Homo sapiens: one gene and its partner. The protein of the gene in region 2 interacts with the protein of the main gene of each other region in a biochemical or structural test. Each region holds a gene or a part of one and is shown on either strand. Other genes may lie near its edges.

Region 1 (3,820 bases), on a different chromosome or scaffold from region 2:
CCTCTGGCACTTTCTGTCGACACCACACAACTGAGGACTAGATGAGTCTTGTTTTCTCCCTACCGCCTGTTTAGTCTTGCTTGCAGATCAACTTGTGTTTAAAGCTTGTCTCCTCAACAGACTGTAAACTCAAGAGTGGGCGGATCACACCTCATACTTCTTTTGTATCCCCAATAGGACTAATGGGGTACCAAGCACATGGAAGGTGTCTAATGAAAATGCCTCTTCTCAGGTAGCTGAGCCTATAGTGTAGTGGGCACTGCAGGGACCACATGATGAAAAAGCAAGCCAGACCGATTTCTTGGAGCTTACAGGTTTGGAGGAGGAGTAAGTCATGAACATGCAAGATTAGGCTACGAGGCAGACCATGAGGTGTTACAGGAAAGAAGCAGTAACCCAAGGGAAGGGAGAGGCCCAAGCCCCTGGGAAACTGGGGGAGGCTGTGCCTACGCCTTCCCTTGATGTGGGCCTCAATGGGCCAGTGGGAGGAGGGCAACAAAAGGAGTAAGGTGGAGAGGGAGAAGCTACGAGCAAACACACCAGAGGGAAATCTGCGGTGCCTGCAGCACCACACTGTCGCAGCAGCCGAGTGCAGAGGAATGGGAAGCAAGACCGAAAAGGCAAGATTTCACCATCCCTTGATGGCAGGAAAAGGTGGTAATTAATTTGGTAAGTCCGGGAAGCAGCCACTGAAGGTGGCAAGTCTGCTTCCTTCTAAGAGCCAGGCAGAGGGCAAGGCGAAGGGGAAGGGGTAGGAATAGATCTAACATAAAAAAGGAGGGGTGAGGAGATGAGAAGGGAAAAGGGAGGCCTAGAGGCAGGTTCCATTGCCTCTGGAGAGCAAGACAACCCCCCGCCCTGCCTTGATATACACACACTGGCAGGGGCTCCGAGTCTGGCAGGGCCCAGCAGCTCAGACACCCTGATTCTTGCCATTCAGTCTTAAGCCATGGTTTACTGTACAGGATTGAAATTATGTTAATAGTGTCATTCATGCTAGTAGTGTCACTTTATTAATACATTTAATCACAGAAATAAAGGTTTTATTCATGACACTATCACTACTGATAGCACTACTACAAGAAGCTTATTCTTCAGTTCTTTTTCCCAAGTCAATGGGCAGCTTATAAAGAAATACAAAGACCCTAGACCCTAAAGACTGCATTAGGCGAGAGCCATTCCACGGTTTACTTCTCCTTCCCATCATCACCATTTTTAGAGAGGTGCAATGGGGTGAAATGAACACTAAGGGCTAGTTAAGAAAATAGATCAGGCCAGGAACAGTGGCTCATGCCTACAATCCCAGCACGTTGTGAGGCCGAGGCGGGCAGATCACCTGAGGTCAGGAGTTCGAGACCAGCCTGACCAACATGGTGAAACCCCGTCCCTACTAAAAATACAAATAAAATTAGCTGGGCGTGGTGGCGCACACCTGTAATCCCAGTTACGGGGGAGGCTGAGGCAGGAGAATCGGCTGAACCCAGGAGGCAGAGGTTGCGGTGAGCCAAGATTGCACCATTGCATTTCAGCCTGGGCAACGGAACAAGACTTGGTCTCAAAACAAAAACAAACCAAGAAAATGGATCACAAAAGGACAGCCCATGAGATGCCTGTGGAAGGAAGGGCAATTATACCATGTTTCTACTTAACACATAATCCTTCCTACGTGCCAGACACTGGTCTAAGCACTTTACAAATAAGAACTCATTGCAACTTCCTAACCCCATAAGGTAGGTACTATCATTCCTCCCAATTTACAGATGAGGAAATGAAAACATAGAGGCCAAGTTTCTTGCCCAAAGTCACAGGGCTAGTGAGCAGAGCCAGAACAAGAACACAGGCACTCTGGCTCCAGGCTAAGTGGCCTGACCTTATACTCAGCTGCCCCTCACTATGCCTTTTAGGACAGGGTGCAGGTTATAAACACATGAGCCTCCTTCTCTCCAAGGGACTGCCAGATGCAGAAAGGCACACAGGAGATAGTGTGGGCCTCAGGGATGCTGCTCTGGTTATGTATCAGAAATGGAGCCCCCAAAGCATCAGAAATGGGGAAGAGCAGAGTGGAACGAAATATACAGACCCTGAGTTCACTGCCCATCATTCTCAGAGTCCAGAGCTACCACCCTTCAGGATCATAAAAACTAGAGCAGGCAGAAGCTCTCCTCAGCAGAAAGTCAAGAGGCATTCAAATCCTCCACTCTCTAAGACAAACTCTACTCGCCAAAAAACTTTCCAGAGGAAATCAGCTTCACTGATTACTACTCTCATCAGTTGGTACTTAATGCTCACTGGCTGTTAGACCGTATCTACACTGGGCACCTTTCTGGTTTGTGGATTACAGATAAGCCATATATCGCTGCCCCTAACGAGTCAGTGCACTACAGCCACGTTAGATTATGTTTCACTTTCAGGCCTCAGGGCTTGAAGCAATTCTATTTTTAAGCTTTCTCAGTTCCAAAAAGGAAAAGAAGGCATTTTAAGGAAATTAGCGTTGGCTAAAGGAATGACAATTTCCTCTTAAAGAGTTAACTGATTAGCCACTTTGCTAAACCAGAAATCTTGGAGCTAACCACAGAGGAAGAACACCTTGTTCAATGTTACTGGGCAAGGGCTGGGGACCTCTGAAAGCATGACAGTCACTCAGGATGTTGGTGGCCCAGGACAAAACTCCGTTACTACCAGAGGGGCACTGTGTGTCCTTCTCCCCAAGAAAGTCTCAAAAATCCTTTTAGATTCTATTCTCTATGAAGCATGTGTCACTTTTTGAGCAACAGAATTGATATAACCACAGAAGACAAATTTGCGAATATCAAATAAATCTTTAAAAATATTACTATCACGTTTTGAAGAGTCATTCTTTCCTTTTTTAAATAATTCCCTTTCATTTAACATCCAAAGTAGCCTTGCTTATTTTGTATCTTTGGGAATAAGTCATTACCCCCACAGCCAACTGTTTAAAGGACACTTCTTTATGTGCGCATTTTTAAAAAAGGTAACCACTCCTGAAGGAAATCTAAAATGTGTCCTACACACCCCAATTTTCCCATATAGGGTTCATGAGACACAGTTAACCTTCTCTTGGTGAATGAGGCTTCTAAGAATTCAAGAGTCTCCCGTTTCGGTTTTGGCTTTGCCACTAGCAAAGACCTGTGACCTTGGGCAAGTAATTTAACAGCACTGGGCCTGAATTTCCTCACCTGCAACATGAAGGGGATTGGGCAGATGAGGACTCTTGTGCCTTACACTTCTCAAATGTTATGATTCCAAGACCAGTGTAAATGCCAACTATTGCCCATGCCAACCTAGAATATCGTTCTCAGGGACTGTCAAGTTCTAAGAATGTTGTCTAGACCACACAAATGGCCCCAGAGAGTTGGGCTACGGTAATGGAAAGCAGACTAAAGTCAATTATTTTTTATTCTTTTTGTCCCCTTTCTATTCCATCAGCTGCCAATTCTCACTGCTTTCTACCTCGAGCTGACATAAACCCCTGCCTTAGTTTACAAAGCTAAGTGGGGGCCTGCATCACTTAGATTCTTCATCAAAGCAAAGTGCATCTGGCTGTGTGATACAATCTGGCAACCAGTGGCCTTCATCACTTCTCCTTCAAAGTTACATTGCATTGGATAGGAGAGTATTTGAGGGCAAAAATTATATTTTTTAAAAGTTATATTGTAGACAAATATGGTGGCCATAAGACTGACCCCCAGTTAAGGTTGGGGAAAGAACGTACATTCCTTGAATTCCAAAAACACATTGCTTTTAGAGGAGAGGGTTTGAAACAAGTGTGAACAGAATATAAACCAATTTCCCTCTTATT
Region 2 (2,886 bases):
TTGTTCTAGGAGTCAGTGTCTGGTTGAGAAATTGCGGGAAAATACTTTTTCCCAGCCTTCAAGAAGATACTTGTGTTCATTTAAATTCTCCCAAAATCTCAACATCTGTTCCAAAATTCAGTTGGTTGCTTGTTCCTCTGCCTTTCAGATATTTGTCTTTGTCCTTTCCACCATCTTAAATACCTCTGTTGTCTGCCAGGAAATATCCTCATAGACTTCTTTATCAGTTTCAAAAGTGGATTTGCAAGAAAAGCTTCTTTCCCCCTCTGCCCTCAGTGGCATTTTTCAATCGAGCCCTCACTCACCTGACTTTACTGTTTTACCGCCTCACCCATTTACAGGCTTGCATATCTTCAGAACAGTTCAATTCTATTCCTCAGCTTCTTCAAAGACCAAATGGAAGTAAGAAGCAGCATGTTCTGACTAACATCCCTTTAGAGAAATAAATTAGATGAAACACTTGCAGCAGTTAAAATTGTGCCTGGTGATTGGTCTTTAAAAATACTGTCTTTTGTTTGCATATTGTCTTCCTCCATGCCCTCTTCCTTTCTAAATTCTTTTATCCATCCTTCTGGAATCTGTTTCTCCCAAGGACTTTTATCCCTCTTGGCCTGCATGGGCTATGTTCACTGCACAGTGTAAAACAAGGACAGGAGACTCTTTGCCAAAGTTAAAAGCGCATCAAACACGCCTAGCTTTTATTATTTTAATCACAAACCTATAGACCCCTCAGTATACCCTCCATGGGGCCTGGCCCCAGCAATCCAAAGCTGACAACCTTGGGTGTAGGTATGAGGGGTGGGAATGGAGGGGGGAGTGTCTCTTGATAACTCTGAAATGGGGTGATTCCTCCAAATGAAGAACTGGGTGGGGAACAGAGGTTGGGGTGGCCTAGATTCTCAGTATGCGGAGCAATAAAAAAATCAGATAAACAAATGAGGGGGTACAATATGCTTTTACAACCCTCCTCCAAGCTTCTGCCTTGCTGGGGGAAGGCTTCCAGTTTTTCCTGGGCTGGGGAGGTCCCAGGATAGCCCCTTCCTTCATCCTCTTGCCCTACATGTTGAAAAAGAATACTGAGGTACTGGTTCTGGTAACCTGAACTCAGTCCCCCACTAATACCCATCACCTTCCCAAACTGCCCCTCAAGGAAGAAGGCAGGACTCTGCCCAAGGGTGGGGGCCTCTCACTCCAGATATAGGTCTGGAAAATTCATCCATGAAATTTCATAATCTGTCCCCTTCCCCAAGAGCAAGGTTGGCTCAGAGCCCTCCTAGGTTAGGTCAGGTTGGTCCCAGGTTAAGGCAGGGGAGCTTAAGTACCACTCCTCCCTGCAGTGTGGAATGCTTAGATGGGATGTTGCTGAGGGACAAGGGTGGGGCTGTGATCTCCACAAGCACTAGCGGTGGCCTGGTCCTACTGATTCTTTCACACCTGAAATACCTGTGCTGGGCTGTTCCTATAGGGAAGGGGTGGGGCCTGGCTCCTCCATTCCTAGAAGGCCAGGAGAGTTCCCAGGGGAAGGGGCTGGGTCTCATCCTCACTTCTGTTCCTTGCCTGGGCAGAGCAGGGCAGGGTTCATGGGGAAGGGGCAGAGCTTAAACCCCCAGGGCTGGGACCTCCATTACTTGACTCCTCTTCTGTGCCAGGACGGACTAGACTGGTGGTTCCAAGACAAAGGATGGAGCAACATCCTGACATCTCCCTTTCCCAGGAGACCTGGCTAGGACAGTCCCTAGGGGACAGGGTCGAGACCTCATCCTGTCTCCTTCCCTCACCTGGGCAAGGATGAGTCCCACAGGGGCAGGGGTGAGGCTGTGATCCCCAGGGGGCAGGCCCTGATCTCATGTCCTTCTCCAGCCTTCTCCTTCTGAAATACCTGCACTGGGCGGTTCCTTTGGGGAAGGTGCAGGGCCTCATCTGACTCCTCCTCCTTGCCTGATTACAGGGGTGGGGCCTGATCACATCTCCTCTTCCCCCAGGATACCTGGGCAGGGCAGTCTCATGGGAGGGTGGGGGAAAAGGCGGGGCCTCATCCTGACTGGTCCTCCTTTCCTGGGTGGGAAAGTCCCAGGGGAGGGGTGAGGCCTGATCAGGACTCCTCTTCCATGCTGAAGCTGCTGCGGCGGCTGCTGGCCTTGGAGACAGCAGGGGACACTGAAGAGAGCAGGGGATCGGAGGCAGCCCGCAGTGGGGACAGGGCACCCCCCGACAGTCCTCCCACCACCCCCTCCTCCTCCTCCATCAGAATGTCCTCCAGCCCCAGGTGGAAGGGGTCTCCCAGGTCCCCCAGGTGGTCGCTGGGAAAGTGCAGGTCCAGAAGGGCATCTGAGGGCGGTGCAGGGGGCTGCTGATGGGGAGCATTCTGGGCAGGTCCCCCCCCTACATGGAACGTTGCTGCGCCTGGCCTGCCCTCCTCCTCAATGTCCAGCTGCTCTGGCTTGAGGCTGTCAGAAGCCGAAGTCGTGGCCAAGGAAAGCAGCCCTGGAGTGGGAGGTACTGGCAGGCCATGGATCTGGGCCTGCAGTTCTAGTTCCTGTAAAAAATAGGGGTTGGGTGCAGGATAAGTAGGGTTCAGAGTCCCTCAGAGGCAGAGGAGTATAAAGGTTGAAAAGGGTAGGTTCCCTGGGTTGGAATTCAGCTTCTGCTACTCACTAGTTCCAAAACTTTAGGCAAGGTGCTTAACATCTCTGAAGCTTCAGAGTCGCAAACTGTAAAGTGGGTATATAATAATGGCCCCTAGGCTGGGCGCGGTGGCTCACGCCTGTAATCACTTTGGGAGGCCGAGGCAGGTGGATCACCTGAGGTCAGGAGTTCGAGACCAGCTTGACCAACATGGAGAAACCCCATCTCTACTAAAAATACAAAAATTAGCTGGGTGTGGTG

The links.
Region 1: the proteins of TFE3 (region 2) and E2F3 form a complex in vitro, tested with the Homo sapiens proteins (one study listed by BioGRID).

Annotation. Positions count from the first base shown.
Region 1 is NC_000006.12:20,408,374-20,412,193, reverse strand, and holds part of E2F3 (transcription factor E2F3), read right to left. Parts: intron 1-3,820.
Region 2 is NC_000023.11:49,028,066-49,030,951, forward strand, and holds the end of TFE3 (transcription factor E3), read right to left. Parts: intron 2,537-2,886; coding exon 2,093-2,536; 3' UTR 661-2,092; downstream 1-660. UniProt on the Homo sapiens protein: Transcription factor that acts as a master regulator of lysosomal biogenesis and immune response.